Linked DNA regions of Homo sapiens: all the other regions are reported to be linked to region 4. Evidence: microRNA targets listed by miRTarBase, many of them from high-throughput screens and not tested one by one. Region 4 holds a microRNA gene; each other region holds the end of a gene's coding sequence.

The links. The annotated mature microRNA hsa-miR-1238-5p reads GUGAGUGGGAGCCCCAGUGUGUG and lies in region 4 at 2,039-2,061, opposite strand. An mRNA with a match to its seed (bases 2 to 7 or 8) in the 3' UTR can be bound and repressed. Matches are read on the target gene's strand: a 7mer-m8 pairs with bases 2 to 8, a 7mer-A1 pairs with bases 2 to 7 and ends in A, and an 8mer does both.
Region 1: miRTarBase lists MRPS18A as a target of hsa-miR-1238-5p. Seed matches in the 3' UTR shown: 7mer-m8 at 349-355.
Region 2: the mRNA of ZNG1A is a reported target of hsa-miR-1238-5p. The part of its 3' UTR that is shown has no 7-base or 8-base seed match.
Region 3: the mRNA of TBC1D13 is a reported target of hsa-miR-1238-5p. Seed matches in the 3' UTR shown: 7mer-m8 at 2,041-2,047.
Region 5: miRTarBase lists PNMA2 as a target of hsa-miR-1238-5p. Seed matches in the 3' UTR shown: 7mer-m8 at 514-520.

What each region holds. Positions count from the first base shown.
Region 1 is chr6:43,669,056-43,672,055 of GRCh38, reverse strand. MRPS18A (mitochondrial ribosomal protein S18A) reads left to right here. Exons shown (of 6, transcript NM_018135.4): 6 at 150-854. The coding sequence ends at 294. It overlaps RSPH9 (radial spoke head component 9), which reads right to left. Exons shown (of 5, transcript NM_152732.5): 5 at 1-1,267. The coding sequence ends at 1,107. Among named protein-coding and RNA genes, the nearest start is that of MRPS18A, 17 kb to the left of the region's middle. RefSeq lists an enhancer at 1-563 and a silencer at 1,756-1,995.
Region 2 is chr9:118,638-121,637 of GRCh38, reverse strand. It overlaps ZNG1A (Zn regulated GTPase metalloprotein activator 1A), which reads left to right. Exons shown (of 15, transcript NM_018491.5): 15 at 65-801. The coding sequence ends at 171. Among named protein-coding and RNA genes, the nearest start is that of FOXD4, 1.7 kb to the right of the region's middle.
Region 3 is chr9:128,807,284-128,810,283 of GRCh38, reverse strand. TBC1D13 (TBC1 domain family member 13) reads right to left here. Exons shown (of 12, transcript NM_018201.5): 12 at 1-2,470. The coding sequence ends at 2,405. Among named protein-coding and RNA genes, the nearest start is that of ENDOG, 9.7 kb to the left of the region's middle.
Region 4 is chr19:10,549,992-10,554,182 of GRCh38, reverse strand. It overlaps MIR1238 (microRNA 1238), which reads right to left and starts at 2,061; the gene lies at 1,979-2,061. ATG4D (autophagy related 4D cysteine peptidase) reads right to left here. Exons shown (of 10, transcript NM_032885.6): 7 at 2,208-2,286; 8 at 2,062-2,138; 9 at 1,859-1,978; 10 at 765-1,298. The coding sequence ends at 1,116. It overlaps KRI1 (KRI1 homolog), which reads left to right. Exons shown (of 19, transcript NM_023008.5): 19 at 1-1,098. The coding sequence ends at 232. It also overlaps the pseudogene RNU7-140P. RefSeq lists an enhancer at 1-103.
Region 5 is chr8:26,505,248-26,508,247 of GRCh38, forward strand. It overlaps PNMA2 (PNMA family member 2), which reads right to left. Exons shown (of 3, transcript NM_007257.6): 3 at 1-3,000. The coding sequence ends at 2,414. Among named protein-coding and RNA genes, the nearest start is that of PNMA2, 7.1 kb to the right of the region's middle.

The DNA.
Region 1 (3,000 bases), not on the chromosome of region 4:
AGGAAAATCCCTGCACTTCAGGAAAGGGAAACTGGTGAAAGGATTTGCTTGCCCAACCGTGGCCTGGCCTGAGGAGGTAGTGCTCCACTCTCCCACGTCCAGCTTGGGCCCCCAGCCCTCACAGGCACCTCTTTGTTCTCCCTCCACAGGTACCTGACGCGCTGGGCTCCTGGCTCCGTCAAGCCCATCTACAAAAAAGGCCCCCGCTGGAACAGGGTGCGCATGCCCGTGGGGTCACCCCTTCTGAGGGACAATGTCTGCTACTCAAGAACACCTTGGAAGCTGTATCACTGACAGAGAGCAGTGCTTCCAGAGTTCCTCCTGCACCTGTGCTGGGGAGTAGGAGGCCCACTCACAAGCCCTTGGCCACAACTATACTCCTGTCCCACCCCACCACGATGGCCTGGTCCCTCCAACATGCATGGACAGGGGACAGTGGGACTAACTTCAGTACCCTTGGCCTGCACAGTAGCAATGCTGGGAGCTAGAGGCAGGCAGGGCAGTTGGGTCCCTTGCCAGCTGCTATGGGGCTTAGGCCATGCTCAGTGCTGGGGACAGGAGTTTTGCCCAACGCAGTGTCATAAACTGGGTTCATGGGCTTACCCATTGGGTGTGCGCTCACTGCTTGGGAAGTGCAGGGGGTCCTGGGCACATTGCCAGCTGGGTGCTGAGCATTGAGTCACTGATCTCTTGTGATGGGGCCAATGAGTCAATTGAATTCATGGGCCAAACAGGTCCCATCCTCTTCATGACAGCTGTGAGCTCCTTACTGTGGGAGAGCTGCAGGGAGCCAAGGTGGGCTGCCTGACACACTTGCCGCTCTCGTGTGAATCCAAGAAACTGCGTTCCTCAAAGGGGCCCTGGTTGTCACCTTCTCCCACAGCCATTTCCACCCATCGTTGTCTAGAATCTCTTTCATTAGCACATTCCAACCCCTCTGCCACTTGGTTTAGAAATGAGCTCCCTGGCTCAGTGGGCCTTTCAGAATCTGGAACCAGACGGAGGTGGAGTTAAGAAGATAGGACAGAACAGGCAGGCCAAGTTCACTGAAGCTTAAGAAAATCATGTTTAGACTCTGTTTAAAAACATCCAGGCTGGCTCCCATTCTATAGCATGAAGGGCAAGTCCATGTTCTTCTCGCCAGTGCCCACGTAGACGTAGCCATAGTTCTTGGTGCGGGGAGCATGGTAGAAGGTGAGGCCCGGCCAGAGCAGGCTGCGCAGCACCACCAGGGCATTGCCCCTCTCCATCTGGATGCTCCAGGACCCTGAGATAAGACAGGCAGGAGGTGAGGCCTGGTGCTGCTGGAGCCACAGCTCTGCCCTTCATGCTGTGGCCCCTGGCTCCTTGGGCAGCCAGGCCCAGGTGCTATGGTTCCACTGGGGAGAGACCATTTAATTCTCCAGATGCTTTACTCCCTGATTGTCTTTTAGCCATTATTCTTTTCGTTTTAAGAGACATGGTCTCACTCTGTCACCCAGGCTGGAATGCAGTGGCGCAATCACAACTCAATGCAGTCTTGACTCCTGGGCTCAAGCAATCCTCCCACCTTAGCCTCCAGAGTAGCTGGGACCATGGGCATGCACCACCATACCCAGCTAACTTTTCTGATTTTTTGTAGAGATGGGGCCTCACTGTGTTGCCCAGGCTGGTCTCAAACTCCCGGGCTCAGGCGATCCTCCCACCTTGGCCTCCCAAAGTGCTGGGATTACAGATGTGAGCCACCACGCCCAGCCCTTTTAGCCATCTCACTGCTCATTAAAACCACTTTCAGAGGGAGGGCAAAGGAAATGAAAAGAGGCGAAACTCAAACCAGTCTGTTTTGTTCCTGTCAGCAAGTCTAGCTAAAGGTTGAGTGGGGGAGGAGGCTGAATCCAATCCACAGGCAGAGGGGAGTTGGGCTGGGCCAAGGGAGACACCAGCTCCTCCCACACTATACCTAGTGCAGTCACCAGTTCTAGTGTGGTTTGCCACTACTTGCCATTTTGCTGTGTCTTCCCCATTTCCTGAAGCCTCTCCTGAGTTGGATTAGACCAGACCAGGAAAGGAAGGCTCAAATAGAAATTTGGGCAGTTCAGGCCTCCTAGCTCAATGGCCCTTTCTGGCAGCTGGTAGACTGGGAGCCATCCTTGGTGGGAGGGGACTTGGGCTGCCCCTAATGAGCCTTTGTCCTAGGTTCTGCCCTGGTTTTTGTCTCCCCACACAGGAGCAGCCCAGCTCAGGGCTGAGTCGTGCAGCCATGAGGACTTGGCTGGAAGGGCCTGATTAAGCTCCAGAACCGAGGGAGGGAGCCACAGTGTGGGAGGAAGGAGCCTGGGAAAATCGCCTCTGGATGCAGATCTGGGGCTTCTATTCCCCTGCGCACTGAGGCCTCTCCCGGCCCAGCCACAGCCCTGCTCCAGGCCCTGCCAGAAAGGCAAATGCTTTGAAAGTTTTGGTGTTGGACCAGCCAGCCATGCGCTGAGAGCTTCTCTGAGGCCTTCATCAGCTGCCAGCTCAGCCTGGCTGCTTGGCTCCTGCTGCCCCAGCTTCCCACGGGCCACCTCCAACCATGGTTCACCCTAGTCACTCCACACCCTGCAGCCTCACAACTCAGTGCCCACCCACTGGGGGCCACCCTGCATCCAAGAAACCTGATTGCCAGGAACCCCTGACCCTCATGGCAGCTCATGCACCCTTACTCAGGGTGCAGCCGCCTGCCCAGGTCAAAACCAAAGTTTTCTGGGCGTATATAGTTTGGCTGTCCCTGGTCCTGCTCAGGGAGAAGCCAATCGCAAAGCTCACTTTAGCACCGTGCAGTGGCCAGCACCAAGTGCCATCGCCCATGCAAAGGATGACGTCAGCCCCCTCCAGCCCACACAGTGCCTGCTGGACAACATCAAGAAGAAAGTAGTGCCCCTGTGTTAGCGGGGCTCCGGCTGGAACACTGCCCCTGAGAAGGAGTATTTCCCCTGACTCTTAAAACTTTTCTCTGGGTGCTTGAGGTCCTCTGCCTCTCAG
Region 2 (3,000 bases), not on the chromosome of region 4:
ATAGGTGAACTGTGTCATTTTAATAAGCATAATGTAATCACGTCATATTTTGTTTTGTTTGCAGGCAGAAATTTAGATAAGGATATCCTTAAACAGCTGTTTATAGCTACTGTGACAGAAACAGAAAAGCAGTGGACAACACGTTTCCAAGAAGATCAAGTTTGTACATAACACTAGAGGCATTTCTTATCAAAAGGATTGGATAATAAAAATAAGTTTCTACTGGGTATATTTCAAGCATTTATTTATTACTTTAGTTACGAATTCCAATATACTTTAAAATGGTATTTGTTTTACAGCATACATAAAATGTAGCAAATCAGTACTGTAAAACATTTAACATTCATACAGTTATATATAATATCCTTTTTTTTAAAGAATGGTATTTCACAAAAATATCTTTTGAAATTGGCTTTGGAGTTTACATATACTGAACATGAAAGTTTATAATAATGATGATACAACTTTCAACATTGTCATTTTTTCTTAGAACTTCAGCTGATTGCAGAGATATAATGATTACATTGTTATTAAATTTTTTTAACACAAGTAAGTGTCACCATTTTATGACATGAAATAAAAGGTTATGACTGTTATTGATGTTGATGTTGACGACCTGATCACCTGGCTGAAGGAGTGTTTGTCAGGTTTCTCCATTGTAAAGTTACTCTTTTCCCCCATTTCATACTGTGCTCTTTGGAAGGAAATCACTATGCACAGCCCACACTAAAGGAATGGGGAGTTGTAGTGTACTTTCTTGGGAGTGGTCTACATGATTAATTGAAATTCTTCTGCAAAGGACAGTTGTCCCTTTCGCTTTATTAGTTCGATCATTTATGTTTATCAGTGTGGACACATGAATATTTTATACTTTGGGTTACAATTTAATACTGCTTTATTTTGTTGCTCAAATTATCCCAGCTTTGACCATTGGGAACTCTTTCCGTTATCTCCTGTTCCCACCTTTGACATACCCCCATCAATGTGGGTTTTGTGTTTTGTTTTTGAGTGCCTCCTTACTTTTCTCCTGTATTTTTAAATAACCCCAATCCCTATTGAAGCTGGCGCTAGGAAAACTAACAATACTCCCTTTCCCAGGTCATCCGATTCCTATGCTGATGGAGGAAATTTGCCTCACATGCTGGGGGCGCTGGGATTTTGTGGTTGAATAAGACACCTGGCCTGGCCCTCCTGGAGCTTAGTTTAGTAGGTCACACAAGCAGTCATTGGTAAATTTGGGATTCAAACAAATCTGTTAGGCTCAAACCTGTCTGTTATTTGTCCTCCAAGCTTCATATAAACTGAGGAGCCTTAAAGGGTAAAAACTTCAGGAGCAGCAAAGTTTCAAAAAAAGATCAGCAAGAAAGCCCTTTTCCAGATTTTATCCTGAAGGCACTAGCTACTTTAAGCTATTTTTTATTATATTTTGCCCTTGCAGTTGGCGTTTGATTTCTCACTGAACATTCATTGTCATAATTATAGACACTATGTGACTATCAAGGGCATAATATTCTTTCATGCTGCATTTTTATTAGATGGCACCTCAAAGTTTTCCCAAGTAGGTGGGTTTTAAATTATGAATATATACCGTGGCATAGTATCTTACTTAGTATTTTAATAAGATCCTTATTTATATAACAAATATTTTTTTTATTCCTCTGTAGTGCTACTTTAGTCTCTGAGCTAATTTTCATGAAGCCAATCTAAAAATCGTGTTACTTCTAAGGATGTGGAGCGAGTGAGATGAACAGTTGTGCTGTCATATTGCCCCTCCCCAGTGCAGACAGTGAATGAGGACCCACTGATTTAAAGGCAACACTGCAGCCCCTTCTTGCCTCATTGAAGTCCCAAGTTTTATTACAGTAAAAGCACTTAATGTTGACATTTCTGAAAGAATGAAGAGGCCGGGCGTGGTGGCTCACGCCGGTAATCCCAGCACTTTGGGAGGCTGAGGCGGGCGGATCATGAGGTCAGGACATCGAGACCATCCTGGCTAACACGGTGAAACCCCGTCTCTACTAAAAATACAAAAAATTAGCCGGGTGCGGTGGCGGGCGCCTGTGGTCCCAGCTACTTGGGAGGCTGAGGCAGGAGAATGGCGTGAACCCGGGAGGCGGAGCTTGCAGGGAGCCGAGATCCCGCCACTGCACTCCAGCCTGGGCGACAGAGCGAGACTCCGCCTCAAAAAAAAAAAAAAAAAAAGGAAAAAAAGAATGAAGAGCCAGAGCCAGGCATAGTGGCACGCCTGTAGTCCCACCTACTCAGGAGGCTGAGGCGGGAGGATCACTTGAGCCCAGGAATTCAAAGCCAGCCTGCGCAACATAGACCCTGTCTCTAAAAATGAATTGGTTATAAAGGATGAAGAAAGGAAGGAGGAAAGGGAGAGAGAGAAGCCCTTATAGAGTGGGTGCATTTCTTGTATGTGGGGCCACTTTGTAAGAACAGGATTTTTCAAACTGGGCCCATACTGGTATGTGTGAAATCAATTTAGTTGGTTATGGCCATTTTTTTTTAAAAGGAAATATCAGTGATCACTATAGTGTAAGTATATTGTTTCGTGAAAGCCATCTTAGTTATGTATTATGTCTGTATGTGTAAGATTGTGATATAAAATGTATTTCTGTGGTTAAATATTCAAAGAAATTGGAGAACCATTGCTACAAGGGGACAGAGGACTCCGTGTGAGCTCTCCTGCCTTCCCTGAATAAACTTACACAATTTAGTGCTGGGACATTTGAACCTTTTCTGAAAATTTGAGTCAGGGAGAGCATCTTGGGGAGGTGGGAAGGAAGGTAGAAGGAGCAAAGCAACACCCCCCTGAAGCCTGGGAATATTGTCAGAACCTTAAATATAATTCAGCTCACCATTCTGGGTAAGGACAGACTCTACCAATGAAAATGGGTGATTACCAGCTGTGAAACACAAAAACATACTTTCACGGTTACACATTCCTTTACAAACAACCGTGTACATTTCAGCCTCCTACCCCACCATTTCTTT
Region 3 (3,000 bases), not on the chromosome of region 4:
TCCAAGATCCAGGGGGCAGGTTCTCAAGCAGGAAGCCTCAGGCACTCTGGCTCTGTGGGGACCTCCCTTGGGCATCTGCTTGAGAATCTGGGGAAGGGACATTATCAGGGCAGGTCCTTTCTGCAGGCGGTGTCCTGCTGGGAGCTCAGCCTAACCAAGGCCTGGTCCCTGTGCTCTTGACCTTCATCTCAAGGTCAAGGAGAGGGCACTTGACCCAACTCTGCCAGCGAGGCAAAGTAATGGTGATTCAAGTAGTGTGGTTCCAGGAGGGAAGGTAGGGGGCAGACAAGAGTGAGTGCACTAAAGAGTCCTGGGCAGTGTCTGCTGGGTCCCAGGCAGTGGCCCAAGCTTATGAAGGGGTTGGAGAAGGGGCTGAACCACCAGCTGACAAGTCCTGGAGAGAGGGTGGCCCAGGTGAGCAGGAAGCATCATGCCTCTGCCTCATCCTGGAGGTCCTGGAGTCAGCCCAGTTCTCTTCCCATCTTTACACTCAATTCCAGTACAGAACTCAGAGCCCGCTCAGCCAGGACCTGCTCGAAAACCAGGCAGTTCCTAGAAGCATGGGGAGAAGAGGCTGACTTTGATCTTGGAAAATGAAGAGGATCTTGTCTCCAACTCCTTTCTCCCTTCCTATACCCATGCCTCATCCCCAGAGCACTTGCCAATGTGCAATACATAGCCAGGAGTCTGAATAAATAGTCAAAGTCTCCCAAATACTGTGCTCTGGGAGAGGAGACAGGCAGGTGCGGAAATCCAGGCGGCATCAAAGGAAAAGCCTGGTAGAAGAGCCACCTGGGGAAGCCTTTCCTGGCCCAAAGCCGGGCTTGGAAGGGCAGCGAGAAGTCCTGCCCACCAGACTCGGAAAGCTTTGGGGGCAGGAGGGCTGCTGGGGCCTGACTCCTGCCAGCCAGTCTGGAGGACGAGGGTCCTCACTATGGCACCCGGCTTCCGGACGCAAACCTTGTACAAGGAGGGAGGTGACTTGGTGAGAACTGGGAGTGGCCAGCTGCCCCTGCTCAGGGTACACCTGCTCCAGCCCTGGGAACAGCTCAGGCAGGGGTCAGAGAAGGCCCTGCACCTCCCTCAGCCCGCAGCGGGTGGAGGGGTACACAGAGGCACAGACATGGCCCTCCTGGAACTGGCAGGACCCAGGGCCTTTAAGCTCAGCTACCCCTGGCCCCAGAGAGGCTTCCTCGGGCCCCACTTGCCCTTTGTGGGACTCACTCAACCCAACCCTGGGTTGGGACCTGGAAGCCGAGGGAATGACAACTCTTCTGAAGCAATGGGTTCCGACCCTGGGCTCAGAATCAAGGTCCTTTTCTTTTCGGACAGGAGGGCCTCTGGGGGAACCTCCAGAAAAACCAGCTCCCCCTCTTCCTTCTCCCTCCCTGGGCAGAAAGCAGGGGCAGGAGGCTCAAAGCTTCATCCTTACTCAGCAGCATTTGGTTTCCAAGATTTCTGTGTAGGGAACGGGTTCAGAACCCTCTAAGTGAGGCACGGAGGACTCCCTCCCAGTTGGGAGGACCTAGGAGCCAGGGCTGGGGGATGGGAACAGGAGGCAAAGGCCAAGCTTGACCTCCAGGGGCCTTGCTGAGCCAGTCTCCTCATCTGTCTCCCAGGTTCAGGGGAGCAGAGGCAAGCGGGGAGAGGAGGTGGCTCAGGATAAGGCACCCCAACAGAGAAGGGCAGGGAGAGTAATGGAGAGAGGAATCATGAAGCAAGACACAGTCCCACTCTGGGAAGGAGGTGGAAGGAGACAGGCAGAGAGGTAGAGACAGAGAAGGAGGGGCTGGGAGACCTGGAGGCCTGAGAGACCCTCACTCCCTAACACACACACACACACACACACACACACACACACACACACACACACACGGAGAAGATGCCTGGGGACTTGGGCCCACATTCACACCGACCGACTACAGACATCTGTGGGTGAGACAGACGGCAGGACTCAGCTTTCAGTGTCGCCTTCCCTGTGGAGCAGCCGAAGTGCCCCGCTCAGAAGCGGTTTCTGGCCCATTGGCCAAGCACCTCCCCTGAGTGGAGCCCAGGAGAAGACCAGAAGCAGGAACTGAGGCTGGGGCGGCAGAGCCGAGGCAGGGAGGGGCCCCTGCCAGCCTCCCAGTGCCAGAAACGGCCCTGGCCCAGGAAGGACAACTTCCCGAGCTCCAGCCCTCCTCAGTATCCTGGGCAAAGAGGGCAGAGTGCAGGGCAGGTGGGGAGCTGGGCGTGGCGGCAGAAGGAGCACGGCACAGTGTGTCCCCAGTGGGCATGGCCTGGGTCTCGGGCCGATCCTGTGGCTTCCCCTCAGGCTGGGTTCCTACAGGTTTCTATGTGTCCCGGGAGCCAGGGCACAGGGTCGGGAGGCTTCTCTCCGGAACATGGGCCTCTTGCCGCCGGGCTACTTTGAGTCTTGGAGCTCCTTGGCTTTCTGCAGGATCTGGCAGACATCTGTGATGGGGTAGTCCTGGGCACAGGAAAAGGCCAACAGTTGCCTCTGAAGCCACTTCACCCCTGCCACACCCACACCCTCCCTGCTGGGACCCGTTGCCATGCTGGATCCTGGGCCTCAGGGGCAGGAGCACAGAACACCAGGCATCCCACACTCCCCAACCCCCAGACCCCTGCATGCAGCTGACGCTACACCATGCAGCACCAACTCAACGATCCAAACACAACCACTCCCAGGCTCTTGCGGCCCTTTCCTCAGGACCAGACCGTGCTGCCTCAGCTCTCCCACTACTGCCACTGAACCCGAGCTCCCTCGTGTGGAGCCAGTAGGACTGGGCCAGTGTCTGAGCATCAGCGCGAAGTCCCAACAGCCCTGTGAGTGGCCACTGTGATTCTGCACTTTTTCCAGATCTGGTCCATGAAGTTAGGGAAAAGCAACTCTAGGCTGGGCTTGGTGGCTCACACCTGTAATCTCAGCACTTTGGGAGGCTGAGGTGGGCGGATCACCTGAGGTCAGGAGTTCGAGACCAGCCTGACCAAGATGGT
Region 4 (4,191 bases):
GAGTCCCCCAGCACAGGAAGAGGAAGCCCCTGTATCACCCCACAAGAAGCCAGCCCCCCAGAAGCGGAGGAGGGCCAAGAAGGCACGGCTGCTGGGCCCCACTGTGATGCTTGGTGGATGCGAGTTCAGCCGCCAGAGACTGCAGGCCTTTGGCCTCAACCCCAAACGGCTGCACTTCCGCCAGCTGGGCCGGCAGCGGAGGAAACAACAGGGGCCCAAGAACAGCTCCTGAGCACCAGGGAGCAGGCAGGGGCCTCAGGCTCCTCTCCTCAAATCAAGCCCTGGACAGGTCTCGCACCCACAAGTACTATCTGCTGCAGAGATCCTCTCATCTGTGGCCAGGCACGCCTGTAATCCCAGCACTTTGGGAGGCCGAGGTGAAAGGATCACTTGAGCCCAGGAATTGGAGACCAGCGTGGGCAACTTAGCGAGACTCCATCTCTACAAAATGTGGTGACACATGCCTGTAGTCCCAGCTACTCAGGAGGCTGGGGAAGGAAGATCACTTAAGGCCATGAGTTTGAGGCTACAGAGAGCTATGATTGCACCACTGCACTCCAGCCTGGGCAACAAAGCAAGACCCTGTCTCTTGAAAAAAAAAAAAAAATTAAAAAACACGTGTAGCTGTGGGTAAGGAAGTCGTCCCATTTTATGGATGTGGAAACTGAGGCTGACTTAAACTTCCCGTGACTTGGAGCTCTCACCTCGAGACACCTCCCAGACCCCACATCCCCTCAGAACGCTGCGCCCAGCCACACCCACGATCAAGTTACACAGCTTTATTGGCCCCCAGCAGCCACAGTTCCCCCAAGGGGGCTTTGGGACAGGGAGGGCCCGGGCGTCCAGTGCAAACTACAGTACGTGAGTCAGGCCCTGAGGGGGGTGCCCGGGGTCCTCCTTCCCTACCCTGCCAGGAGGGCCCCGCTGGTGGGAGACAGGTGTATGGGCTCTGTGGGCTCTGTCCCTGGCTGAATGGCCCCAGACTGGTTGCAGCTGGGCTTGAGGGGCTGACAACAGGAAGTACCATCATCACTGCCAGAGCTCAAGATCCCACACCCGACATGACATAAATAAAAAAATAAATAGTGTTGTATCTTTCCCCTCATCCCCTCCCTTTATAAAAACACAAAGTCCTCAGAGCTGGGGCGTTTGGCCCTGAGGAGCCGCCCTGTGCGAGGGAGCCGGAGTGTGGGCTGGGCGAGCTGGGAGCAGAGGTCGTCCAGGCTGTGGTCCTGAGCATGGCCCTCGGCCAGGGTGAACATGGGGTACCGCTCTGTGGCTGAGGAGGAGCTGAGGACCTGGCGGGAAGAGGGAGACAGGGTCAGCCACAAACAGTGCCAAGCCATATTCCTTAGCCCAGGTTTATTTAGTAGGTGCTTCTCAGGACCACCTCTCCAGGAGAGAGCAGCCAATCAGCACCTTCCATCCCCTGGCCACAGTGATTGGCTCAGCCATGAGCATGTGACCCAGCTCAGCCAAAGACTGACAGTCCTGGGATTTTTGCTGCAAAACCTGCGTTTCCCTTCCAGTGACCACAGGGTGGGTGCCCAGAATGGCTGGTGGCCATCTCTCGCCCCCATAAGGGTAGAGTCCTGGTCGGACAGCAGGGCCAAGAGACAGGGAGGGTTCCCACCACTTGAGCCCCTGGATACAGCTGCCTCCAAGGGATGATGCCTTAACAGTGGGCTTTGGCGTTCCCACCTTTTCAGGGGTGGACATTCTTCACATTTCCCAGGTTAGGACCCCTAGCCTGGAAGCAGCACCCCAGCTCTGCTGGACTCGAGGCCTCTGTTCCTCTTTCACCCCCAGCCCTGCCCAACCGCCCCCCTCACCCCACTCCAGCTTTCCTCTTGCTCACCCTGGTCAGCTCTGAGCAGAGTGTCTCAAACTCCTTCCTGTCTCCAGCATAGAAGCCCACGGTACAGCTTGGGTCCATCTTGGCAAAGGCCATCTTGCGGGGCGAGGTGCAGTGGAAGGACTGGGGCAGACAGACGAGGAAGGCTCAGAGGCTGGGCTGCCCACCCGCCATGGCCCCAACCACACACTGGGGCTCCCACTCACCTCCAGGGGGAAGTCGGCCTGGCTGACATCCACAGTGGGCTGGCAGTAGTGAGGGTCCAGGTACAGCAGGAAGTCATCTGCAGGGGGTGCAGGTGTGAGTGGGGGTGCGGTGGGGGGTGGGAGGAGTGAGGAGGGGGTGGGCCTACCTTGGTAGCCAATGAAGTACAGTGAGTGTCGCGGTTTCCCACCCATGATGCCCAGGCACAGCTCGCAACGCAGGAGTTCCTGCAGGGAGGAGGGTAGGCAGGTGCTGTCAGGCAGCCACTCAACAAACGCTTGGCAAACACCTCCTCTGTGAGAACCCAGCCTCTGGAGGGCAGCAGTGATCAAGACCACAAAACCCTTGCCCTCAGGAGCTGACATCCTAGTGTGAGAGACTAACAAGGAAGATGATTACATGAATTTTTTTTTTTTTTTTTTTTTTGAGACGGAGTCTCACTCTGTCACCCAGCCTGGAGTGCAGTGGCCCAATTGGCTCACCGCAACCTCCGCCTCCTAAGTTCAAGCGATTCTCCTGCCTCAGCTTCTCAAGTAGCTGGGATTACAGGCACCCGCCACCACACCCGGGTTAATTTTTTGTATTTTTAGTAAAAATGGGGTTTCACCATGTTAGCCAGGCTGGTCTGGAACTCCTCCTAACCTCAGGTGATCTGCCCGTCTCGGCCTCCTAAAGTGCTGGGATTACAGGCTGGAGTGCAGTAGCACGATCTTGGCTCACCGAAACCTCCATCTCCTGGGTTCAAGCAGTTCTCCTGCCTCAGCCTCCCGAGCAGCTGGGATTACAGGCGCCCGCCACCACGCCCAGCTAATTTTTGTATTTTTAGTAGAGACGAGGTTTCACCATGTTGGCCAGACTGGTCTTGGACTCCTGACCTCAGGTGATCCACCTGCCTCCCAAAGTGCTGGGATTACAGGCGTGGGCCACCACGCCCAGCCAATTACATGATTTATCTCATGTGTTAGAGGTGATAACTATATGGAAAAGAATAAAAGAGGGAAGGGAGCCTTGTGATTTTAAGTAAAGAGGTCAAACATTACAGCTCTTTTAGAATTTGTCTCAGGTTTTCTGGTTCTCACTGGAAAACCCCCCACGCAAAAAATATTTTAAAACAGGAGCCAAGCAGTGGCTCATGTCCATAATCTCAGTACTTTGGGAGGCCGAAGCGGGAGGATCACGAGGTCAGGAGATCGAGACCATCCTGATTAACACAATGAAACCCCATCTCCATTAAAAATACAAAAATTAGCCAGGAGTGGTGGCGGACGCCTGTAGTCCCAGCTACTCGGGAGGCTGAGGCAGGAGAATGGCATGAACCCAGGAGGTGGAGCTTGCAGTGAGCTGAGATCATGCCACTGCACTCCAGCCTGAGTGACAGAGCAAGACTCCGTCTCAAAAAAAAAAAAAAAAAAAAAGCCACATGCATCACTGCTGAAAGAGTGCTCCAAGCAGCAGGGGCAGCAAGCGCAAAGGCCCTGAGGTGGGAGTGTCTGAAATAGGTGAGGAGGCCCCTGTGGCTGCAGCAGAGTGTGGGAGGAGGATATGAGGTCAAGGTGGGGGATATCCCGACATCAAGAAGGTGGTGTGGACAAATAGTGCCGGGCTCTGTGGGTCACTGGGAAAACTGGCTTTTATTCGGATGCAAATACATAGGGGACTTTCCAGCCTCAGGGTCTCTGTCTTGCTGTTCCTTTTGCCTGGAGCACTTCTCCTCTGGCTCCTCATTTGCCTGGTGGCTGCAGAGGCGCTTTTCTAGGCTCTGCTGCTACCCTCATCTGCCCTTCATTGGGTTACTGTTTTTTTAAAGTTGTGTAGAGGCTGGGTGCAGTGGCTCATGCCTGTAATCCCAACGCTTTGGGAGACCGAGGTGGGTGGATCACCTGAGGTCGGGAGTTCAAGACCAGCCTGGCCAACATGGGAAAACCCCATCTCTGCTAAAAATACAAAAATTAGCCGGGCGTGGTGGCATACACCTGTAATCCCAGCTACTTGGGTGGCTGAGGCAGGAAATTTGCTTGAACCTGGGAAGCGGAGGTTGCAGTGAGCCAAGACGGTGTCACTGCACTCCAGCGTGGGCAAGAGAGTGAGACTCGAATATTTTCAAAAAAAATTGTGTAGAGATGGGGGTCTCA
Region 5 (3,000 bases), not on the chromosome of region 4:
AAAAAGCATTAAGTCATTTGTTCATAACAACCGTGTACTCTCATCTTCTTATTTTTCAGATGTGGAAACTGATGTCTAGAGAAGCTAAGCAATTTGCTTACAGTATGCACAAATCTACCACAAGACTACACATCAACTGTGTTGGAGATTTGCCTAGCACATATAACTAAATGGTGCTCATCTGCACTGCACTCACACACTTACGTGATACACAGGTCTGATCTAAATACACAGGTCTGATCTACACAACCATGTGGTGCTACCGCTTTTAAAATCTGTGAACAATTAAAAGAAGTTTGGATACGTACACAGATACCATAAAGGAAACTTTGCTCTAAGGTCTGCACAAAATGAGCCAATCTGAAAATAAAAGTAAACCTGGTGGTGAATGCTGATGTGTTAAAATTTGGTTATCAGCCCATTTGAATCTAGCTGCATTTACTAGAGACTTAAAGAGTTTAGCCCAGGCATGGTGGCTCACACCTGTAATCCCAGCACTTTGGGAGGCCGAGGTGAGTGGATCACTTGAGGTCAGGAGTTCGAGACCAGCCTGGCCAACATGGTGAAACCCCATTTCTACTAAAAATACAAAAATTAGCTGGGCGTGGTGGTGGGTGCCTGTAATCCCAGCTACTCGGGAGGCTGAGGCACGAAATCGCTTGAACCTGGGAGGCGGAGGTTGCAGTGAGCTGAGATTGCACCACTGCACTCCAGCCTGGGTGATAGAGCAAGACTCAGTCTCAAAATAATACTAATAATAATTAAAAAAATAAAGAGTTTAAAACACATTTTGGAGATGGCACTGCTAGAAAATCTGCAGAACTGCAGAGCACAATTTGAAAGTCATCGTGATGGTAGAGGATGGACTAGTGTGAGTCAGAAAGTTCTGGGCTTCTGTCTAGGCTCCATCACTTCTTGGCATTTTGGTGTTGAGGAGACCACTTAACTCATCTGAGCTTCGGTCTTTCTCTTTATAAAGAGCAAAATTATACCACAACAGGGTGGCTGTATACATTCAATGAGATATACATGAAACACTTTGCACACAGTAGGCCCTCAATAAATGTGAGTTCCTTTTCTCTCCTCTTCATCCTTTGTTGCCACTAAAAGCCTTCTCTAAGCAAACCAGCCTGCTCACTAAATCCAAACCTGCCCTAAACAACCCTGCTCTCAAGCATGCAGTCCCCTCATGTCCCCCTTTCTTTGGGGACACCTCTCAGGCTGTGGACCTCTGGAAAGTAAAGCTTAGGTTGAGTCATCTGTGTCTTCAGGGCCTGACACAGCACCTAGCTCTGGGACCATCTATCTGACACCTAGCAGAAAGGCAGGAAGAACACTTCCCAGGTTAAAACAACAACAACAATGACAACAACAACAACAAAAATCTGCAGGCAGAGGTGGTCCTATTCACTGGGTGATGACACTTTTACTGGGGTGATGAACTTATTTACACAAAGGGTTAGTTAGCCTTTTACCTGTCTAGATCAGCTCCTCATCTAGACTGGAACCTCTCTGAGGGCAGGGCCCATTTTGTAGGTTTATAACTGCTCAACTGCAGGTTATAGCTGTAGTCTTGTAACTCCTTGTACAGTGTCTCACAAAGCCAGGCACTCAGAGAGAATTTGCTGATTTGAGAAAGGAAAACACCTGACAAGTCAAACAGCTTTATTTTTCAAACATTACAAAAGGTATTTTTTTTTTTGACTGCCAATTCTTTCTTCTATGGTATGGGCCAATTCTGGTCTATTTGGGATTATTTAAAGAAAATTGGAAGTACAAGTGTTTCAGATTCCTTCAGGCTTACTATTTAATATTTGGAGTTTAATCTTTTGTTCATTAATAATCTACATAGGGTCTAAGAAACTCCTAGATATTTTTTTCTTAAAAAGAAAAATCAAGGGCCAGGCATGGCGGTTCATGCCTGTAATCCCAGCACTTTGGGAGGCCGAGTTGGGCACATCATTTGAGCCTAGGGGTTCCAGACCAGCCTGAGCAACACAGCAAAACCCTGTCTCTACCAAAAATACAAAAGAATAGCTAGGCATGGTGGTGCGTGCCTGTAGTCCCAGGTACTTGGGAGGCTAAGGTGTGAGGATCACCTGAGCCTGAGCCTGGGAAGTCAAGGCTGCAGTGAGCCGAGATTTTTGTGCCACTGCACTCTAGCCTGGGTGATGAGAGTGAGACCCAAGAAATAAAGAAGAAAGAGAAAAAGAAAAAAGGAAGGAAGGAAGGAAAGAGAGGAGAGGAGAGGAGAGAGGAGGAGAGAAGGAGAGAAGGAGGAAGGGAGGGAAGGAAGGAAGGAAGGAAGGTCAATAATTGGCTTTCATGGTTTGATTTCAGTCCCATACATTAAAGAAAAAAATTTTTTAAAGGTCTTAGCCCACTGGCTGTGGGTCCTGCCCCCAGGTGGTTTTCAGTCGTCTCCCTCATGATTCCAGCGGCCATAGCCATCTCGTTCCTCTGGCTCTTCGATACTCTCATTCTCAAAGGAGGCCTCTTCCTCCTCTTCTTCCCGTATTACCTTCATTAGCTCAAGGAAGCTGGGGGGCGGGCCCTGATCCTTCAGCTCCCTAAGCCGGCACCACAGCATCTGGTTAAGAGTGGCCCCAGCCATGACCTGCTCCAGGCGGACCTGGTCCGCAATACGCCGAGGGATGGCGCGTTTCTCCACCGCTCTCCGGAGCAGGGTTTCTAGCCGTAACACATAGGCTGAGACCTTCTCTCCTTCCTCCTGATAGGTCTTCAGATACCTCACCTGGGCTGTCCTGCGGCTCTCTAGGCTCCCAAACACTTGCTTAAAGGCCTCCAAACACTCTTCTACACTGATGGACGGGTTGTCTGCCTGCACTATGTGCATGAGGTCCAGGGCAGGGCCCCGCAGGCTTTCCGCCAGCCACCTTTTCTTTTCTGCCTCTGTTACTGGCCACTCTTTGACTATCTCCGTGGCCTGTTCCAACCAGACCTCAAAGGACTCTTCCTCTGGGGCTGGGACAGCACTCC